Linked DNA regions of Homo sapiens. The protein of the gene in region 1 interacts with the protein of each later gene in a pairwise test. Each region holds a gene or a part of one and is shown on either strand. Other genes may lie near its edges.

Region 1 (7,075 bases):
TATGTGCCAGGTCATGTGGGACAGACACATGGGACCTGTTGCAGGAGGCTGAAGACGTAGCAAGGAGGGAGAGTTGGAGCAGCACAATCCTGGAAGGCTTCCTGGAAGAAGAGACCCTGGGATAGCACAGGAGCAGGAGCTGGATTTGAATAGGAGGAGAGAAGGTGATCCAAAGGAGGGGACAGCTTAGTGAAGGCAGAGAGATTGGAATGCTCAACCAGGAGAGAATAGCAGGTGGTCCTGACAGCTGGTGTCTGGGGCCCCCTGAAGTGCCTTGAGGTCTAGACTAGGGCCCAACTCACTGGAGCAGCCCAGGCAGGCCTGGATGGGAAGGCCCAGGGCCCTGCTTTGCCCATCAGTTTCCCCTTCTCTTTCGTTGCTGGGAAGAGTCTGGCGGTTGGGTGGCAACACCGGGCAGGTTCATCCTTAATCTCCCTCTGCTCATTTCCTCATCTGCAGAATGGAGCCAGTGTTACCTACTTTGCAGAGTGGCAGGCACGAGAGTGTAAGAACAGGAGCCGGACAGGGCTCGCCCGATCCTTCCTCCCATTACGTTCCAGAGGTTTCCCAGCATGAACGATGCATTTGGGTACATTTTCATCTGGGGTGCAGGTGGAACGGCCTCCCGGGACCATCTAGTTCAACCTCCTATCTTACAGATCAGAAAACAGGTCCAGAAAGGGCCAGGTGTTTATCTGAGGTCATGCAGCCTGTGGGGGCAGAGCCTGGCCCCTTCCACGGCCTGAAGCTGCCTCCCTGAGCCACTCTGGGGCCCTGTGAAGGGGCAGGCTCTGCAGGGCGGGGACCTGGTGTACACACAGCTGGAGGCTGGAGACAGGGTGAGGAGGCTCAGATTGCACAGCCGTCTTTCCTGGAGACCCAGCTTGGCCTCTCGCACACCCCTGACTCAGCTCCGGGCCTCTCTGCACTAGTGATATTGACTTTGATTAGTCATTTAAAAGAAGAAGGGAAAAAAATAGCCCTCGAGGCAGACAACAGCCACTGTGCTCAGCAGTGATGAATCAACCTTGCCAGCCTGGTGGCTTCCCCTGGGACACGCCTGGAGGCTGCCTGGCCTCTGCGCCTCTTGGAGGAGTCAGACTATTACATCCAGGAAGGTGTCCTGGAATCCTGGAGTCTCTGCTAGGAGAGACCACCAGGGCTGCCCCACCTCTGCCAGGGGAAGCTCAGGGCATCCAGCTCCCCGTGGTTCCAGCAGGGTCTGTTCTTCCTAGCAGTCTCCATGCTAGGGAGGTAAGGAGCACTCCCTCCCAGCCTTCCTGGTTGGAGGTGGTGTTTTTTGTTGGTTTTTTTTTTGTTTTTTTAGACGGAGTCTCGCACTGTCTCCAGGCTGGAGTGCAATGGTGCCATCTCAGCTCACTGCAGCCTCCACCTCCTGGGTTCAAGTGATTCTCCTTCCTCAGCCTCCTGAGTAGCTGAGACTACAGGTGTGCATCACCATGCCCGGCTAATTTTTGTATTTTTAGTAGCAACGGGGTTTCACCATGTTGGGCAGGATGGCCTCGATCTCTTGACCTCGTGATCTGCCCGCCTCGGCCTCCCAAAGTGCTGGGATTACAGGTGTAAGCCACCACACCCAGCCAATTTTTTTTTTTTTTTTAGACGGAGTCTCATTCTGTCATCCAGGCTGGAGTGCAGTGGCATAATCTTGGCTCACTGCAACCTCCACCTCCCAGGTTCAAGTGATTCTCCTGCCTCATCCTACCGAGTAGCTGGGATTACAGGCATGCACCATCACACCCGGCTAATTTTTGTATTTTTAGTAGAGATGGGGTTTTGCCATGTTGACCAGGCTGTTCTTGAACTGCTAACCTCAGGTGATCCACCCACCTTGGCCTCCCGAAGTGCTGGGATTAAGGCATGAGCCACTGCACCCGGCTACCCCTATAAATTCTGATTCAGTCTCTTTGGGGTGGATCCCTGGAAGCCGTTTTTGTTTTTTTTTTTTAACCCCCCCAAAGGATTCTGGTGCTCGCCCAGCTTTGAGAACTGCTGAATGCAGAACAAAAAAACACCAGGATGTTAGCTGGGCTTGGGGGCTCACACCTGCAGTACCAACTACTTGGGAGGCTGAGGCGGGAAGACTGCTTGAGCTCAGGAGTTTGAGACCAGCCTGAGCAACATAGTGAGACCACCATCTCTACACAAATTTAAAATTAGCCAGGTGTGGTGGCAGGCACCTGTAGTCCCAGCTACTCTGGAGGCTGAGGCTGGAGGATTGCTTGAGCCTGGGAGATCAAGGCTGCAGTGAGCTATGATCTTGCCACTGCACTCCAGTCTGGACAACAAAGCGAGATTCTGTTTCAAAAAAAAAAGAGCTGGGCGCGGTGGCTTACGCCTGTAATCCTAGCACTTTGGGAGACCGAGGCGGGTGGATCACCTGAGGTCAGGAATTCAAGACCAGCCTGGCCAACATGGTGAAACCCCGTCTCTACTAAAAATACAAAAACTAGCCGGGTGTGGTGCGGGTGCCTGTAATCCCAGCTACTCGGGAGGCTGAGGCAGGAGAATCGCTTGAACCTGGGAGGCGGAGGTTGTGGTGAGCCGAGATTGCGCCACTGCGCTCCAGCCTGGGCAACAGAGCGAGACTCTGCCTCAAAAAAAAAAAAAAAAGTGCCAGGACAAATTGGATGTTGGTTGGATGGGAGAAGAGGAGGAAGATGGCAGATGTCCTAGGTTTCTGGCTTGGGGTTCTGCGCTAGGCAGTTCAGAGGATGGGGCTCTGGCAAAACAGGTGGAGCCTGGTTTTGGCCAGGAGGCAGGCAAGGTGCCCGTATGATATCTGGGCACATCCGTCCGTAAGACACTTGGGCCTTTGAGTTTGTGCCCCACAGTTCCAGCTGCCACCTGCACAGCGAAGGGTTCCAAGTCCCCAACTCCAATCCAGCCCCCTCTCCAGAGCTGTGAATGCCACTCAGAAAGCATTGGTAGATCCCCAAGGGAGCTGGGCCCTAATTATTCCACAGAAATCTGTGTGTCCACTTTTGTTTTTTTGAGACAGGATCTTGCTCTGTCACCTAAGCTGGAGTGCAATGGCACGATCATAGCTCACTGCAGCCTCGACCTCCAGGGCTCAAGCAATCCTCCCACCTCAGCCTCCTGAGTAGCTGCAATTACAGATGCATGGCACCACGCCCAGCTAATTTTTGTAGCTTTTGATAGAGATGGGGTCTTGCTATGTTGCCCTGGCTGGTCTCAAACTCCTGGACTCAAGTAATCCTCCCACCTTGGCCTCCCAAAGTGCTGAGATTACCGGCGTGAGCCATCATGCTTGGCCACTTTATGTATACAGTGCCCGCCCTGGCCAGCCCAAGACACCAGGAAGACAGCATGCCAGGGTAGCCACATCACCTAGTTACATTTTGGTCAAGAGTGTGTCTGGGCTGGGAAACAGAGGAGGTGAGGGTGGCAGTGGGGCTCTGCCATCCCGCGTCCTTATCAGTTTATTCCGTGTCCAATGAGAACTGATTCCTTATCTGAGTGAATCTGGAGGACATCTCTAGAATGCTGCCACCAGGCTCTAGCTTGGATGTGGATGAGGGTGCAGGGGCGACAGAGCCAGGAGCCATCAGAATCCCACAAACTGAAATAAGCATCAGAACAAATGAAGAAATGAAACAGGAAGAAGGTCCTTCACTCGAACCCCAAATCCACTCCACAGACAGTGGTTGGGAAGGGCTTGGGGCTTTTCTTGACAGGAAATGCTACATGATCACTTATCTGATTCCTGGCTGTATTACTAGAGGTAGATCATATAGAAAGAGGGAGGGGATGGGCCAGATCTTTGGCATTGCCCAGACCACAGTCAGCAGCAGATTCAGTTTGTGTGCTGTATGACAGGAGACAGAGGCACAGTGGAACAACTCTTGGGCAGGGGCTGTAATTTGGGGTCCCTGGGAAGGATCTGAAAGGGAAGGAATACTTAAAAAGAAAAATCTAGGGAGGATGTGGATGCCGCCTTCAAATCTATAGCAGGGGTACCCCAGGGAGAGGGCACCCACAGGTTCTTTATGGCCTGGAACCAAACCACAGGGAAGAGAAGGACTCTAACAGTTGGGGCTGCCCGAGATGGGCAGAGCTGTCTGGGGAAGCTAGTGAGCTCACTGTCACAGGAGGTTTGCAAGCTGAGGCTGGCAGCTGAAGCCAGGGGGACTTTTCAGGTCCCTTAGGGCCTGAGAGTTTTCAGCCATGGCTCCAATAGGAATGTGAATGGCGTGTGGAAGAACAAGGTGCGAGATACTGATTTGGGGGGGCAGGGAGGCTTCTGGAAGGAGGTGGCATCGAGGAAGAAGGGAATGTCACCTTCATGGAATCAGCATCCCGGGCAAAGGGATGTGCCTGGGGGAAGTTGGGGGCAGAGGGTGGATTGTAGGGCCAGGAACCAGTTGTAGGTGTGGGGGAGTGGGGTCTGATCCCAGGGGAGGGCAGCAGGATAAAGAGCAGAGCTGGGGGTGAAAATTCCCAAGAACGAAGAAGTAGAAGGACGTGGGGAGGAAAGGCCCACTTCGCCCATCCCCTCTAGGTTTTGCTTGGAGCTGTGGCTGGTTTGACCATGCCTCAGAGGTCAGGCCCTCAGCCCCCCGACTGGCTTTGGGGCCAATCTCAATGCCACCTCCAGGGTAGACTTGACCTGCGTGCCCCCATCTACCCTGGCCCTGATCTCCCTTTCCCCAGCCCTACCCTCATAGACGGAGGGTCCAGAGGAGGATGCGGGCATCTCTCCTCCCAGCCCTTCTGTTAGAGAAGCTTCCTGGTCCAGCCTTCAGCCTTCTGGGAAGGTAGCAGGTCAGAGCTGGCCGGATGCCTGGAGAAGATCTGCCCTCATTACACAGATGGGCAAGCTGAGGTCAAGAGAGGCACCAGACAGGTGCCAGGGGTCTCTGAGGGCAGGACAGGGGTTCGGTGGGGCTGGCAGTGACGCTCGTCTCTGGCCACGGAAAAGGAGCTGGATAATTCTCCATCCACCCTTTGTCATCTACCCTGATCCTCTGAGCACCAGGGCAGAGAGGGCAGGACACTGAATGGCAGGAGCTCCTGGGGCCACTTCCCAACCTGGCAGCCTGCCCAGGAGGAGGAACTGGGCTCCTCCTGGCAGTGCTCTGCCTCAGTTTCCCTAGGGAGGGCTCCTCTGACTCAACTCCTAGGCCTGTCACGGTCTAAAAGCGTGAAAACGGCTCCTGGATTTTCTGTGTCTGTAGGGAGCTTGGTGGGGGAGGGGGTACCACCTGGTGACAGCCCCAGGCACTCGGTGGGGAGTGGGAACGAGGATTTATTTTAGCTGCTGGGGAGGTGGTACGATATCTTAAAGAGAGGAGGCCCCTCTGAGCCGCCTCTATCAAAGCTCCTAACTACCCCCTCTCCCCATGAGTCCCCACTTTGATGGGGTGATGTGAGCCCCTCACAGAACATGCTCAGGCCGGGCATGGTGGCGGCTCACACCTATACTCCCAGCACTTTGGGAAGCCAAGGTGGGAAGATCACTTGAGCCCAAGAGTTTGAGACCAGACTGGGCAACATAGTTTGACCCTGTCGCTACAAAAAAAAAAAAAAAATCAAAAAGTAGCTGGGTGTGGTGGCATGCATCTGATGCATCTGTAGTCCCAGCTGCTTGGGAGGCTGAAGTGAAAGGATGGCTTGAGCCCGGGAGGTTGAGGCTACAGGGAGTTATGATTGTGCCACTGCACTCCAGCCTGGGTGACAGAGCGAGACCCTGTCTCAATCAATCAATCAGTCCATCCATCAATCAAACAAACATACCTGCCCTGCTTCCCCACTTTTTCTCAGCCCTCCCTCCATGCAGCCAGGTGTCACTGTCCCCATTTCACAGAAGAGTAAATAGAGCCAGAGGGGTTAAGGCCCAGCCTGATGAGTCCCATCAGTTCTCTCAGCCCCTCAACCTCCACCTGCCTCCGTCCTGACGCGAGAGCACCGAGGTGGGGTCAGTGCTGAGCTAGTCAGTGGCCACTCCCGTGAGGCACTCAGAAATGAGGTGGGAACAAGATCAGATGTGGTGGTTCACGCCTGTAATCCCAGTACTTTGGGAGGCCGAGGCGGGTGGATCACCTGAGGTCAGGAGTTCGAGACCGGCCTGGCCAACATAGTGAAACCTGTCTCTACTAAAAATACAAAAATTAGCTGGGCATGGTGGCATGCACCTGTAATCCCAGCTACTCGGGAGGCTGAGGCAGGAGAATTGCTTGAACCCAGGAGGTGGAGGTTGCAGTGAGCCAAGATCACACCACTGCACTCCAGCCTAGGTGACAGTGCGAGACTCTCTCAAAAAATAAAAAAATAAAAATAAAAGAGGTGGGAACAAGCCCTGAGCCCCAGGCTGAGAGACCTCAGTCCCTGCCCCAGGGTGGCCACCCCGGATATCCTTGCCTTGGCTGCAGAGAGAGACCTGGCCTTGCCAGCAGCGTGGGCTGACCCTGGCCAACTGGCGGTATGAGGCAGACAGTAATAATTGTGCGCAGCATGCTGGGAAGTCAGAAGTATGATTACCCCTGCCCCACGATGGGGGTGGCTTTTGTACAGCTGGTCCTGGGACAGTGGAGTGGGGCTTGTAACTGTGGCTGAGGCCTAAGGCAGGACCCAAGCCAAGTGGCAACATGACTGTCCCCTTGTGCCTGCTGGGCCCAGGTCTGGGGACTGGAAGGAGGCAGACCGAGGTCCAATGGCAAGACCGACAGGGAGGCCAAGTGCAGTGGCTCACACCTACAATCCCAGTGCTTTGGAAGGCTGAGGCAGGAGGATCGCTTGAGGCCAGGAGTTCAAGACCAGCCTGGGTAACACAGTGAGACCCCCGTCTCTACAAAAATAAAAATTAAATTTAAAAACTGTTTTAAAAAAAGACTCACAGGAGATTCCTAAGAGATCTGATCCGTGCCACCTCGGGACTGGGGTTTAGTGGTGCCCAGGGCTGGGACACAGTAGGCAGGTCTCCCCTTATAGGGCCCACTCTGGAAAGGGAGCTTGGGACCTCTGGGCTCCACCTGAATTAAAACCACTGGAGCCAGGCATGGTTGTGGAAACCTATAATTCCAGCTACTCGGGA
Region 2 (7,522 bases), on another chromosome or scaffold:
CAGCTGTCCTTTGTCAGACTGTGTGGGCCTGTGCTGTAAATGAGTGGCCTCGATGGGGGCTGCTGCAGCCTGCGGGAGGTGCACTGGGTGGTTAGAGTCAGCTCTGCAGGTACTGGGTTGGGGGCCAGGAGGGTTGGGAATACTGAGATTGGGGAAACACAGTCCAGGGCTTCTTCCCTAGGCAGACAGGTTGAGCGAGAAGAATGACAACATGAGTCCAGGGGGCAGGTCAGAGGAAGCAAGCAGATGCTCCAGTTGTGAGCCTGTAGCAAAGAAGGTTAGCACCACCAAAAATAGCTCCATCAAAGGTCCCTTATCGCCTCGTGTTGGCCAATTGCCATGACCCTCAGGTTTCCCTGCTGGGTTTCTCCATGGACTCTGACACTTGCCCCAGTTCCTTTCCTAACAGTCTTTCTTGGGCTCTCAGGACATTTCTTTTTTTCTGTTTCTCATCTCACAAATGAAACAGTGCATCTTGTTCTCTTTCACTGTTTCCACCATTTCCTTACCAGGCTCCTGATTTCAGTCTTCTTTCTCAAAAGGGTAGTGCATGGTAAGACATTTGGGCTCTGCTGTTTGCGAGGTGTGTGACCTCTGTTGCTCTGTTGACTTCATTCTTCCTAAGCTTCATTTTCCCAGGCTATAAATGTGGGACTGTTAAGAGTTCCTACTTTAGACCGGGCATGGTGGCTGAAGCCTGTAATCTCAGCACTCTGTGGGGCCAAGGCAGGAGGAACACCACAGGCCAGAAGTTCAAGACTAGCCTGGGCAACACAGTAATACCCTGTCCCTCAAAAAAGAGTTCCTACTTAATGAGGGTTGTTATATGGAATAAATAAATATATAATAGAATAAATAAATAAATAAATAAATAAATAAATAAATAAACAAATTGACAAGGCAAAACTTATTCCACTTCAGCAAAGCAAGTGTCAATATTCTACTTATGGATGAGTGGAGGAACACATGTTCAGATGAAATCACTTGTGCAAAGTGATTTCACTTTTACTTTTAAAAGTGTAAAAGGCTTAGTATGGGCCAGGTGCGGTGGCTCACGCCTGTAATCCCAGCACTTTGGGAGACTGAGGCGGGCAGATCATGAGGTCAGGAGATCAAGACCATCCTGACTAACACGATGAAATGCTGGCTCTACTAAAAATACAAAAAATTAGCTGGGCGTGGTGGCACACACCTGTAGTCCCAGCTACTTGGGAGGCTGAGGCAGGAGAATCGCTTGAACCCAAGAGGAGGAGGTTGCAGTGAGCCGAGATTGCACCACTGCACTCCAGCCAGGGCAACAGAGCGAGACTCCATCTCAAAAAAAAAAATGCTTAGTATGGGGTCTGGAGTGTACTAAGTACTCAATGAAAGTCAGCTGCTGTTACTTTCCCTCTCTTGTGGTTTCTAGGAGACCTTCTCCCCTCCCCTCATTTCAACTATCTCCTGTAGAATGACCTCCAAATCTGAATGTTCGGTCCGAGCTCCAGAGTGTCACCTGCATGTCGAATGGCAGTGAAGGGCAGAGGAAAAAGCATGGCCGCACATGATGGCAGACAAAGGCTTGTTCCTGTTCAGCACTAACAGCTGTAAACTTTGCACAAGTGATTTCATCTGAACATGTGTTCATCCACTCATCCATAAGTAGAATATTGACACTCGCTTTGCTGAAGTGGAATAAGTTTTGCCTTGTCTATTTCATCCATGGCACTTACCATGCTCTAGAATGACATCTTTCCATGCTCTTCCCCAGCTGAAATGAAAGTGAGGTCCTTGCCAGCAGGAGCCTTGCCTCCTTTCTCCTCACTCTATTCCTTGCCCCAGCAGTCTCCTAGCACAGGCTCAGTAACATCAGTTCCTCATTCACTTTCTCTCCTCCTATATCCCTTTGACTTCTCAAGGTCAGTATGTATCAAACCAAACAACTAATCATTGTCTTCACTAGACCTGACCCATGAATTTAACAAACAAGTATTAAGTGCCAGGGTTAAGGGTTGAGACAGAAAGAAGATAGTTGAGACATTGTCTCATTGATGGAAATGTTCACTGTCTACTAGGGAGATGGATAATGACACTGGAATATGTATTTGTGACAGGATTAGAGACATTTCTCAGGGGGCCCCAAGCATAGAGAAGGAATGATTCTGACTATAGGGGTTGGAAAAGCCCTCTCAGAGAAGGTGATAATTATCCTGGGTCCTGATGAAAGAGTAGAAATTTGCCAGGCAGAGAAGATTGACAGATGGCTAGAAGAGTGGTGTGATGGGGCATGAACTAACATGGTGTGTTCAGCTGGAATGGAGGGCTGACACCATTTTCCCCCATTTTCTTAAGTGGAAATTTGACACATACACAAGAATAGAAAAAAAAATAGTTTAACACCCAAATAGTATAAAACACCCAGGTGATCACCCAGCTTCAACAACTATCAGCTCATGGACAATCTTGTTCTACCTACATGCTTACTCACTAAACCCCCATACCATTATTTTGACACAAATCTCAGACATTGAATAATTTCATTTGTAAATAATTTTTGGTTCTACATGCTATAACAATTCTGTGAAAAAAATTTTAAATAAATAAATACTTTGGTATCTTAAAAAGTTAAAGTATATCCTCTTTTTGTCCTTAAAAAGGAGTGATACATAGCATACTCTAACACTGCAACTTGTTTGTTTTATTTGTATCTTAGCCATCTATCTGGTGACCACACTGTATCAGGATATGTAGAATTGCTTTCCTCTTTTAGGAGGCTACCTAGTATTCCATTTGTGAATAGTTAACCTAGCCAGTCACCAGCTGATGGGCATTTAGGTTGTTCCCAATCTCCTAACATAAAAACAAAGCTGAGAGAATACCCTTAAATATACATCTTTGCTACCTATGGGGATTCTTGGATGTGGAATTAAATTCCAGTACATTCTTGGATGTAGGTTACATTCTTGGACGTAGAATTGCTGAGATCTTGTGCACATGGATTCTGAAAGGTGCTCCCTATTTGGCCCAACAGGTGCTTTAAATGATAGGACAAGGATGCTTTCTCTCTGTTGTCCAGGCTTTTGACACTTTGGAGTTCTCTTTCTGTCCCTTCCTTCGTTTACTCAGTGACATATCATACCAATCCAACTACCCCCAGCCTCCTCCCTCCATGTCCACTGCTGTGGTCCTGGGTCAGGCCTGAGTGCTTTCTTTCTTTCTTTTTTGAGACAAAATTTCGCTCTTGTCGCCAAGGCTGGAGTGCAGTGGTGCAATGTCGGGAAAGTAACTGCAACCTCTGCCTTCCAGGTTCAAGCGATTCTCGTGCCTCAGCCTCCCGAGTAGCTGGGATTACAGGCACATGCCATCATGCTCGGCTAATTATTGTATTTTTAGTACAGACGGGGTTTCACCATGTTGGACAGGCTGGTCTCGAACTCCTGACATCAAGTGATCCGCCCGCCTGGGCCTCCCAAAATCCTCGGATTACAGGCGTGAGCCACCATGCCCAGCCAGGCCGGCGTACTTTCTTATCAGGACAGTTGTGGCTATCAAGTCAGCACGTATTCTAATCATCTGCCAAAGCGAACATCCTAAAACAGGAACGAAATCATTCTCTTACTTAAACACCTCTGTTGGTGTCTCATCTACATTATTAAAAATCTAACTCCTTAGCCTGCCTTCAGTGCACTCTTGTTTGTCCCCAGATTCTCACTTATTTCTCATATACCTTAGGCTTCACTGAAACTGGATTCTGGTGCCTTACCTGGGACCGTGTTCACCCATTCCCTTCTTTTTCTGCTTGAAGAAAAGTGTTGCTCATCCTTGAAGGTAAACTTAAACTCCATGTCCTCCATAAAGCCACACAGTGTTAAGGGCCACTGGTTTTGGACTCAGGTTGACTTGGATTCTTATACTGTCTCTCTTTTGGGGGGATGTCATTTAATTCTTCTGAAACTCAGAGTTTTCATCTGTTAGAGAAAGACAAAAATACCTACCTTGGAGGATGATTGTGAGGCTCAGGGATGCGGGAATATAGTAGGAGCTGAATTAAAAGCAATTCTGATTATTTCCGTGGTCACTATTGCCGCCCCACCGCACTTGATTGCAGCCCCTGGTGCTACACCAGCTACATTTGCTTTATGTGACAGCAGGTTGTGGACAAGACTGCCTTGATCTCTAGACTGCAAGCTCGCTGTGGGCCGGGCTCACGATTCACCCCCGGATCTCCCAGCCCTGGCACCAAGCCGGCACTGGGGGCGCGCCATGCCTGCAGAATAAGTGGGGAAAGCGACAGGGATAAACGTAGAAAAACAAGCACAGACAGACGGAGAGAGGGCAGACTGGGAGGCAGGTTTTTCCCGGAGTCTCCACCGAAGGACAGAGAGGGCGGAGTCAGAATCGGGGGCGGGGGCCTGGCTCAGGAGGTGGGGCCTGGTTCGGAGGCGGGTCTCGGCGCGGACCCCTCCCTGGTCCGTCAGTGAACGTGCTCCGCGGGCTCAGTCCGCCCGCCGCTGCGTCCCGGAGTGCAAGTGAGCTTCTCGGCTGCCCCGCGGGCCGGGGTGCGGAGCCGACATGCGCCCGCTTCTCGGCCTCCTTCTGGTCTTCGCCGGCTGCACCTTCGCCTTGTACTTGCTGTCGACGCGACTGCCCCGCGGGCGGAGACTGGGCTCCACCGAGGAGGCTGGAGGCAGGTGCGTGGCGGGAATCCGGGTTCGGGTCAGAGGAAGGGAGCCGGGTCCGAGGACCGGGGCTGGGAATCGGAGATTCGGAGATTCGGGTTCCGGTATCGGAGGCGTTGGGAATTGAGGTTCACTTATCGGACTGGAATCCGGGTCTGGTATCCGGGCCCGCGTCCGCACGGTCTCGGACAGAAGGGTGGATGGGAGCCCGGCTCCGGGCCTGACTGGGACCTGTGTGGTGCTGGCTGCAGGGTGTGCAGGGCGTCACGCCGCGGTGCCTTTGGTTGGGTGGATTTGCCGAGGGAGACGCGGCGCTGAGCCTGCCCGCGCCGTTGCTTTCCCAGTCCCAGCCCTGGGCCCCATTTCCAGCCCACCTTCGCCCCCGTGCGGGCCCCCAGCCTCTTCAAGTCCACTTTCAACTGTCTCTCCTCCTCCCCACCCCACTTACGTCAGGTCTGCCCTTGAGACTTTAGACATTAGATCTTCAGGAGAAATATTGCATAGACAACTTTAAATTATTCACGAATTAATTATCGACTCTGCCCGTCTTCCTGGTTGTCTCTACTTTTACCTTTTTTTTTTTTTTTTCTGAGACGGAGTCTTGCTCTGTCACCCAGGCTGGAGTGCAGTGGCGCGATCTCGGCTCACTTTAACCTCCTCCTCCCGGGTTCAAGCGATTCACCTGCCTCAGTTTCCCAAGTAATTGGGACTACAGGCGCGCGCCACCACGGCCGGCTAATTTTTGTATTTTTAGTAGGGACGCGGGGGGGGGGTCTCATTATGTTGGCCAGGCTGGTCTCGAACTCCTGACCTCAGGTAATCCGCCTGCCTCAGCCTCCCAAAGTGTTGGGATTACAGGCGTGAGCCATCGCGCCTGGCCTCCTTTTCCCCTTCTAATGAACGACTGGTCGAGGCAGGAGGCAGAGCAATACTTACCTGGCCGGTTTTTGTGAGTGCTGCATACTCTTTATAAAGTGCATGGAAGTGTGCCTAGTACAGCATTGCGTGGTTAAGGGAATTACTGATATTTGACTATTAAGGCAGCTGTTTTCAGTTACTGTATTCTTTTGCTGTAGCTAAGAAGGCTCTGCTGTGGGTGTCGGACATACCGAGAGAAACTCTCGTGAGAAGTAGGAGGGTTTGCTCATGATTAATCAGTGATGGATTCAAGGACTGTTCAGATGGCAGAGGCAAGATAGCCTTGCTACTATAACCCTTGGGCAGGATTCAAAGTGCATTGAGGACCAGATTAAGAGCAGAGTTAAATAGTAGGCTCTTTGAAAGGGTTCGATTCAAGCCTGACATATTATCAAAAAAGTTACATTTATCCTATGGGATAGATATACTTTCCTGAAGAATCTCTAATTGGCTTTATAGTGAATGCTAAAAAGTCGTTTTACTTGGCACCTCAGGAACAGTTTGAAGTCTGAATTGTTCTTGGTTTGTGGGGGAGGCAGTGTCCTTGAAAGGAAGGCAATTTGAGACATTTAGAACTTGCCTGGAAATGAATCCATTTGCCTCTTAAGAACAGATTCTAAAATCCCAGAGCTAAAGGGGAACTTAATGACTGTTTAGCACCAACCTCTCACTTTTTAGATAAGGAAAGAGACTCAGGGACTAGTCCAAGGACGTAAAACAGAAAGTAGCAGGGTTGGGATGCTAACCCAGGTCTCTTGCTTCCAAACTAGGGCTCTCCTGTCTGTCTCCGCAACGTCGTATCAGGTCATCTGTCATTGGGAGTGTATGTGTTCCCAGCAGATCAGATGATGGGCATATTTATAAACCTACTCTGAAAAGAAGACACAGCGAGTGACTTTCATGGGCACTGGACTGATCTGAACTCATGTTTCCATCTGCTTTTCCAAATCCCCAGGTCGCTGTGGTTCCCCTCCGACCTGGCAGAGCTGCGGGAGCTCTCTGAGGTCCTTCGAGAGTACCGGAAGGAGCACCAGGCCTACGTGTTCCTGCTCTTCTGCGGCGCCTACCTCTACAAACAGGGCTTTGCCATCCCCGGCTCCAGCTTCCTGGTCAGTGTCCTGCCCTCCCTCCAACCCTGTTTCCTTATCTGTAAAATTTGGATACTCCCCTGTAACCTCATGGGATTGTTGTGTGGGGATGATTAAAAGTGACAGTGGGTGTATCGGGGCTGGCACACAGTGGCCCTCAGCACTTACGGAGGGATTGAGCACCGAAGTGGGAGACACTGACAGCTTCCTTTTGTACTGCTTCCCTCTCCCACCCCAGCCTGTTTCTCTCCTCTAGGCTGAGGCTGGACCTGCTCAAACAGTTTCCTTGTCGGAAACTAGAAGAAAAGCAAACATGTCCAAGAGAGGCAGGGGAGGTGTGTGGGGCTCGGGGTCAGGGGCTGACTCCTTGAGGCTGCCCTGTGTCTGTCTTCTGTCTTGAACTGATCCCTCTTCAGGGCAGAGAGCCAGCTGCTGCTTGGTGGGGGCTCCACATCCAGACCTGAGGGTGAACCCTGACTCTGCCTGCTGTGCTCTTGGGGAGGATACTTAATCTCTCACCTGTAGAATGGGGCAAGGATGGCATGACTCAGGGATGTAGTGAGGATTACACAGGACATGTAGTCAAGCACTTAACACAGTGCTTAGCGGCTCCCCAGCTTCCCACTTCCAAGGCTTCCTTTTACTTTCTCTCTTGGATCCCATGTTTTGTCAGGATGATGTCTACCAACCAAAATGCATTTAGGAAGTATTGGTTCACTTTTCCCTTTTTCTTAAACCAAGACATCTTCAAATGTCTGCTAGAGCTCTGGTCAACATGGAACCCCGGTATTAACATACTGCATAGATGTAATTCCAGCAAAAAGCAAAGAAACAAGACATCTTACATAGCTTGTGTGG
Region 3 (7,734 bases), on another chromosome or scaffold:
GATGGGAACCTGATCAGTGGAGGTGTAGGGGAGGATGTCTTCATGGCTGACATAGTCCAAGCCTGGCACAGAGATGCAAAAGACAGTGGTGAAACTCACAGGAGAGGAGAGAGATGGGGTTGAGAAGAAACATTAACTGGCCTTGTTCCAGTATGGGATAACCCTGATATCATACCTCTCAGCATCATAATCCCTCCCAGTGGATGACAGGACATCAGAATCCTCTCCCTGAGACACACCAGACTCCTTCTTGACGGGCACCATTCAAATGCTAACTACTCACCTGGGATGGCATAGAGGGCCCGACTGTCATCATGGTTAGCCAAGAAGGTCACAGCTTCTGTCTGAGATCTCTGAGACTAAGGCAAGAAGTGAATCAGTGGTGAAACCATGTCTCTGCTAAAAAGTACAAAAATTAGGCTGGTGTGGTGGCAGATGCCTGTAATCCCAGCTACTCGGGTGGCTGAGGCAGGAGAATCACTTGAACCCGGGAGGCAGAGGTTGCAGTGAGCTGAGATCTCACCACTGCACTCCAGCCTGGCGACAGAGTGAGACTCCATATCAAAAAAAAAAAAAAAGACGTGAATCAGGGCTTTGTTGGCCACTGTGCAGTCCAAGGCCTTGGGGACCAAGACTGACCTGGGCTCTGTTTGACCCCCTTCCCTCCCTTTGTCCCCATTGGGATGCAGGACTTTCCATGGAGAGGACCCCCAAGCCCAGCCATCTTGCTTACTTACTATATGTGGGCAGTCACGAGCATCAATCAGCACCTGATAGTAAGTGTGAGTTTTGCCTTTCACCTCCTTGGAGCCATGGCCAGCAGGGTTCTCTGCTCTATGGGGTGGGAGAAGGAGGCCAAGATCACCCCAGGAGAAATGGAAGCTGTGGCTGACTCAGCTCCCTACTCCTCCTCACCTAAACAGGCTGGTCTCTGATCTAAAGGGGCTTTAGCACCAGCTGGACACCTGCTCTGCAGCACCTCAGCTCAGCTGCTCCTCAGTTGGGGCAAATAATAGAGCATGGAAGACCATGGTATGGAGCCATCATCTGACCGTGTGGATACCTCTTAAAAGAAGGGGGCCATGTTGAGAAAATCAAATTGCCACCTCAGTCCCCAGGGCCCAGAGTACTCTTGTCTTCTTATATCCCAGGGACTGTCTGTGATCACTTAATGGGGCTGAACCTTTTCTGTTTTAATGTATTCTAGGGATGATGTGAGATTGAGGGAAAGACTCCAGCTGAACATCAAGAAATCAAGAAGACTTGTCCCCCAAATGCCCTCTGGGATACTCATAATGAAAATTAGGAATGGCTTAGGAAAGCATTCTGAGGAGGCCTAAAGGGACTCTCTGACTTAGACTATCCCTGGCACTCAGCACTTTTGTCTCCATGGGTCTTAGTCCCAGAGAAGTACTCTGGGGATGTTTCCAAGGCCTAGGAGGACGCTGTCTTCACCCCTAGTACCCCAATTACATATGTCTGCCATCTCCTCCTGAGGATACTGTGAGGCACAACCACAGGGAAACTTACTTTTCTGGAGCTGCAGAAGCCACATCCCGGTCATACAGTCTGGCCTGCCAGGGAAACAGGACGACACCTCGGTAGCCAAAAATGCTATGAAGGAAAAGCTGGAAGGAAAGAGGGGCCTCAGTGAGTCTGCAGTCCAGCAAATCCATCCAGGTGGGCCCCAGACCACAAAGCAACACAGGTGGAGGCAACTCCAGCACAAGGTCTTGCTACCTCTTCCCTTGAAGTCTGTGATCAACCAGACCAATGCTGGAACACTCTTATTTCTTCTTTACCTGGCTGACTCTACTCATCCTTTAGGTAAAAGCTTAGGCCTCCAGGAAGCCTTCCCTGACCTCCCTTCCACTTAGCACAATGTACAGCTATTGGCCATTTGCAAATCGTTCTTTTCTAGACTAGAAACTCCACAATAGCAGGAATCATGTCTACTTTGCTTTCTGATTTAACCCTAATGCACAATGCCTAGTCCATTGTAGGCACACAGAAAAATAAAATGTTGAACAAACAAAAAGTCTTCCTTACCTACAATATCCTAGAAGGGCCTAAATCTATCCCAGTGGACCCAGAACAAAGCTGATATAGAAAAAGAACCACACATCCAGAGTTTACCACACTGAAGTCAATTTTATTACGGCAAAGCATCAAAGGTATACTTTTCTGAAAGCTCCCTCCACGGCTTCCCACCATCCACTATGTTAGAGAAATCTTCAGCAACTTGGCTAAACCTCACTATAGTCCACACCATCCCTGTCCACATTAACTTGGAAAGAGAACCCACTGACACATTAAGTGCATTCAAATCCAGGAGAACAGAAACCCTATCTATAAAAATTTGATTCTGGGCTGGGTGCGGTGGCTCACGCCAGTAATCCCAGGACTTTGGGAGGCCAAGGCAGGTGGATCACCTGAGGTCGGGAGCTCGAGACCAGCCTGACCAACATGGAGAAACCGCATCTCCACTAAAAGTACAAAATTAGCCAAGTGTGGTGGCGCATGCTTGTAATCCCAGCTACTAGGGAGGCTGAGGTAGGAGAACTGCTTAAACCCAGGAGGTGGAGCTTGCAGTGAGCCGAGACCATGCCATTGCACTCCAGCCTGGGCAACAAGACTGAAACTCCGTCTCACAAAAAATAAATAAATAAAATAAATAAATAAAATAAAAAATGAATACAAATTTGATTCTGGAATGGCACCAAACATCAAGGTGGAATGAATGGAACACCATACCATGCAGGCCTGTGACCTAATCTGACTTTTTTCAGAAGCAGAGCACTCTATGAAAATGAAAGATGACCCAGCCCAATACTCACCTGCCCGGTCTCATATTTTCCATTCTGTTTTGGCACCTCAAACACACCAACTGTCTCCAACACTTTGCCCTCTGGTCGGTTTCTGAGTAGGAAGGAAAAGAACAAGCAACAGAAAAGCTGAGAAGGTAATGGTAGTTATCCATAAGAAAAAGCTCCTAGGATACTGAGGGGCCAGGGCGATGACAGCAGAGAAGGGTTTGGGGTAGTGGGACCAGCTGGAGCAGGAAAGGCTTTCCTCCTCCTTGGTGAAAACCTCCACAGTCTCCCAGTGTTAGATGTGACCGCTCCCATACTACTGTCTTCTCTCTTCACTGGGCATTCTTCATATCATGCCCTCACACTCTGCTCAAATGTACCCCTGCCCTTGTTTCTTCCCTAACCCACCCTCCTGACCTCCCACAGCACTTTAACTGTCTTGCTCACTTTTTCAATTTTTTTAGAAGGGGAGTATCTTTTTTTCTTCTTTTCTTACATTTTCTATATCACAAGTCATCAAACAATATCCTGCTCCCTTTACATTTCAGTTGTGTCCATGTCTTATCTTTATTAAATACTGTAAATTCCCTGGGAGCAATGCCTGAGTCTGATTAGCTGGTACTGCCCCCTCAGAGCCTAGTGTACAAGAGGTGCTCAAAAAATATTTGTCCTGTATTATAATTCCATGTCCATCTCCCCCTCTAACCTGTAGCCCTTACATTGCCCTTGAAAAGCTTAAACATCTCTAGATTTCCTACGGCACATCGCTCTCTCAATACCGTTTTTGTTCATATTCTCACAGGGGTCTTAAATTGCAAATAGCTATCATCTCTCCCCAATGTTCAGTGTCTAATATCAGCCACTAAAATGTCAGTCACCACTCTGAACAGGGCTGCTCTTTCTAGGGGCCCTTCAAATAAAGGCTGTTTTTACTGTTTTGAAGATGTGAACTTTATGCTTCCTCCCACTGATCCACCAGCCCATTTGATCCGCCTGTCCCATCCGTGGAAACAGTTTCCACACCATCCCCATGGCCTCAAACCCCCTTCCCCAAGTCACAGATAGAAAATCGATCTCCCCAAAGTCACTTGGAAACCTGGGGCCTACGAGGGTCCACACCCAAGAGTCTCGTTTCCCACCTCTAGCATCTTTCTGAGGCAGACCTTCACCAAATCCAAAGGCTGAGGGTTCAAGCCAATGCCCTAGGGCTGAATTAAAAAGCTTCCCTCTGACATCGGTGCTGGGGACCCCAGCCGGGGAAGTAGGATTCACTTGGGGAGGGTAACCTGTTCCCCCCCAGGGCCAGCCCTGTACAACCAGGGCTCTGGGCCGCGCTGGCTTCCCTGCTCCTGGCACATGTCCCAGACAGCGCAGGTCGGCTCCCTGCTCGGGACCCTCTCCCGGGTCAAACTCCAGTCACCCTCAGCAGGCCCGGGCCCCTGGCCTCCGCACTGGCTAGGAACACGCTCTCTGGGCTCCAGGCCCAGTTCCTCGCGCCCCCTGGCTCCGTCCCTCACCGGGACGAGAGGTGCCTCCGCGTCGTCGTGGTCGACGCTGGCGAGAAGGCTCCAGCTCCGGCCGCCGCACAGAGCGGCCTTGGCCACCGGGCCCCAGTCAGCGACCGGGACCACCAGCGGCTGCCCACGGCCAGGGCCCGCCGGGCTGTACAGGCTGCCATGTCCCGCCCGAGCGCCCGCCCGGCTGCTGACACAGAGCCCGACCCGCGGCCGGGCGGCGTTCCGCCCCAGTCCCACACTGCCCCGCGCGGCGTCCCGGCCCTCTTGGCCCGCCTGGTCCCACCCCGGAGCTCAGAGCAACTTCCGGTGCGCTTAGCGTTACTTCCGGCGCGCGGCGGGCGGAAGTCCGGGTTGGGGTCACCTGACCGGAGAGCCGGCTAGATATGGCGTCCTCTTTGCTTGCGGGCGAGCGATTGGTGCGTGCTTTGGGCCCCGGCGGGGAGCTGGAGCCAGAGCGGCTACCCCGAAAGCTGCGGGCCGAGCTTGAGGCCGCGCTGGGGAAGAAGCACAAGGGCGGTGATAGCTCCAGTGGCCCCCAACGCTTGGTTTCTTTCCGTCTCATCCGGGATCTGCACCAGCATCTGAGAGAAAGGGGTGAGCCCCAGTCTCCAGTCCGGGGTCCCCTCCTTGTGTCCAGATCGATTCCCTCCTGAGGTCTTTTCCCATCATTCCCCTTCTTCTACGGAGCACTCATCTAGACAAGTCAAGAGTCACTCCATAAATCCCAGGGCCACCCACTTTCTTAACTCCCATGGGAATTTCTCGTGGATGACAAATTTGCTTGTGCAGTTTCTGCTCTTTTGAGAGCCCCCTCTTCACTTCCAGGCACACCTAGGCCCAATTCACCCTTGAGAAAGTCTAGGTTTTTACCAAATACAAATATCACAGGTTTTGTCTCTTCTTTTTCTCCACTTTAGGAATCAGCTTAGCATAGTGAGCTTGTAGGAATCCGGATTTCTTTCCACCTCAAAAGCAAGAGTGGTGAAATCTGATACTTTGTTTTGTTTGTTTGTTTTTTTAATATAGGATGGCAAAAGCTGTGTTGAAAGATCTGGCCTGAGAGTAGCATGTGAGTTCCAGTCCTAGCTCTGTCACTAATCCTTTGAAGGAGTCATTTCTCCTCGCTGGGCCTCAGTTCCCTTATGTGTAAAGGGAAGGAACAGGACAAACTAGCACATAAGGTATTTTGCCAGAAGTAACATAGACCAGCCAGAAGTGCAAAGGGTAGACTGCTCAATTATTAGAACTAGAAAGGACCTTAGAAAGAGATTGCCTAGTATTAGTGTCCTCTGAGCATTTAGCATCACTATGACCTAAACTTATTTAGGGAAGAGCTGTTGTGGCCACAGAACTGATCTAACCCAAAGGCACAAGTAAATGGCTTACTTGTTAGTTATAACACTGGCAGGATAATTGAGAGCTGACAGCTAAAGTCACCTGCGCAGCACTGGGAGATACCTACATGGAATTATCCAAAATTCTTTTCAATTGAAAATGATCCTGGAAATGGATTAATGTAGAGATGGCCCTGTTTTATTTTGGTAGAAAGAAGGGCTACACCCCTCTTGATCTTAACCCTTCAACCTCAGCTCGTGGATCATTGTGTTTGTGAAACCTTTTCTTCTCAGATTCCAAACTATACCTCCATGAGCTCCTAGAAGGCAGTGAAATCTATCTCCCAGAGGTTGTGAAGCCTCCACGGGTATGTAAGGGATATGTTTGTGAGAGTGGTTATTGACTGAGTTGGGCTTATCCATGATACACTGAACTTATAAATCAACTTTTAGGCTTGAAAAATTGTTTTTGAAATCTTTGGGATCTGGGGGAGCCAGATATTGTCCTCCCCATCAGCTGTTTGGAAAATTGAGATCAAAAAAAAAAAAAACAGTTTCAAAGCACTGGAGTTACGACTAGTATGTGGGTCTCCTGATACCTTTAGCAGTGCTTTACCCCTGGAACCAATGATTGTGATGTGCTTTCTAACAAGCTGGGAATATCATTCTTCTCATTTGATTTTTCTGCTTCAGAACCCAGAACTAGTTGCCCGGCTGGAGAAGATTAAGATACAGCTGGCCAATGAGGAATATAAACGGATCACCCGCAACGTCACTTGTCAGGTAAGGACATGCTCTTCAGTACGTGGTCTAGGTAGCCCCTCAGAGTAGGGCCCTGCAGTGGAAGAAGATACAGAGTTTAGAAAAAACATGGAAACTTGGTTTCTATACTGTTCAGGGACCATAGGAAGTCTGCATACAAACAACACAGTTCCCATCTCATTCACTGAGACTCTGGGCTGAGATGGTGACCAAGTTTTAAACGTCATAGAAGTGGGAGTTAGCCGGGCACGGCGCTCATGCCTGTAATCCTAGCACTTTGGGAGGCTGAGGTAGGTGGATCACTTGAGGTCGGGAGTTCGTGACCAGCCTGGCCAACATGGTGAAACCCCGTCTTTACAAAAAATACAAAACTTAGCCTGGCGTGGTGGCGGGCACCTGTAATCCCAGCTACTCGAGAGGCTGAGGCAGGAGAATCACTTGAACCCAGGAGGCGGAGGCAGAGGCTGCTGTGAGCCAACACTGCACCATTGCACTCCAGCCTGAGCAACAAGAGCAAGACTCCATCTCAAAATAAATAAATAAATAAATAAATAAGTGGGAATGAATCTTGGAGGCTTTTTTTCTTCTTCTTTTTTTTTTTTGAGATGGAGTCTCACTCTGTCACCCAGGCTGGAGGGCAGTGGCAGGATCTCTGCTCACTGCGGCCTCCGCCTTCCAGGTTTAAGTGATTCTTATGCCTCAGCCTCCCAAGTAGCTGGGATTACAGGCATGCACCACCACGCCAGGCTAATTTTTTGTATTTTTAGTAGAGACCACGTTGGCCAGGCTGGTCTTGAACTCCCAGCCTCAAGGTGATCCTCCTGCCTCGGCCTCCCAAAGTGCTGGGATTACAAGGTGAGCCACTGTGCCCAGCCATTCGAGCATTTCTTCTGACAGGGCTCCCTACTACTCTATGGCATGCTCCTACCCTGGAACAGGAGAGTAGATGGGTACTGGCAGCCTATGTCCTCTCTCCGAAATGCCTGCTCTGTAGTCCAGAAAAGAGTCAAAATGGTTCCAGACAAAAGAATCCATGGGGAGGGCAGAGTTAATATGTTGGGGAATAGAGAGGGCTGAGCCAGACTGTCAATGGATGCTCTCTGAGCTGCTTCTATTCTGAATCATCTTCTTTTTCTTTTTCCCAGGATACAAGACATGGTGGGACTCTCAGCGACCTGGGAAAGCAAGGTGAGGTACTAGGAGATCAGGCTTCTAAAACCTTTTCCTGAGATGGGTCATGACACTCAGGCTTGTTGTTTGACTGAAACCCAGTTGGTGGGGGAGCCATGAGATAAGAGCACCTCCTAG

The links. The genes of interacting proteins can lie anywhere in the genome.
Region 2: the proteins of STX1A (region 1) and TMEM41A interact in binary tests that used the Homo sapiens proteins (3 or more experiments, as listed by UniProt).
Region 3: the proteins of STX1A (region 1) and VMA12 interact in binary tests that used the Homo sapiens proteins (3 or more experiments, as listed by UniProt).

What each region holds. Positions count from the first base shown.
Region 1 is NC_000007.14:73,709,670-73,716,744, reverse strand, and holds part of STX1A (syntaxin-1A), read left to right. Parts: intron 1-5,347; exon of another isoform or gene 5,348-5,428; intron 5,429-7,075. UniProt on the Homo sapiens protein: Plays an essential role in hormone and neurotransmitter calcium-dependent exocytosis and endocytosis.
Region 2 is NC_000003.12:185,495,991-185,503,512, reverse strand, and holds the start of TMEM41A (transmembrane protein 41A precursor), read left to right. Parts: upstream 1-4,477; 5' UTR 4,478-4,551; coding exon 4,552-4,670; intron 4,671-6,531; coding exon 6,532-6,685; intron 6,686-7,522.
Region 3 is NC_000017.11:28,352,958-28,360,691, forward strand, and holds the start of VMA12 (vacuolar ATPase assembly protein VMA12), read left to right. Parts: upstream 1-4,689; 5' UTR 4,690-4,713; coding exon 4,714-4,924; intron 4,925-5,958; coding exon 5,959-6,032; intron 6,033-6,357; coding exon 6,358-6,447; intron 6,448-7,571; coding exon 7,572-7,614; intron 7,615-7,696; exon of another isoform or gene 7,697-7,734. Other genes in the region: POLDIP2 (polymerase delta-interacting protein 2), read right to left, coding at 1-62, 284-359, 738-834, 1,531-1,628, 2,838-2,919, 4,331-4,491. UniProt on the Homo sapiens protein: Accessory component of the proton-transporting vacuolar (V)-ATPase protein pump involved in intracellular iron homeostasis.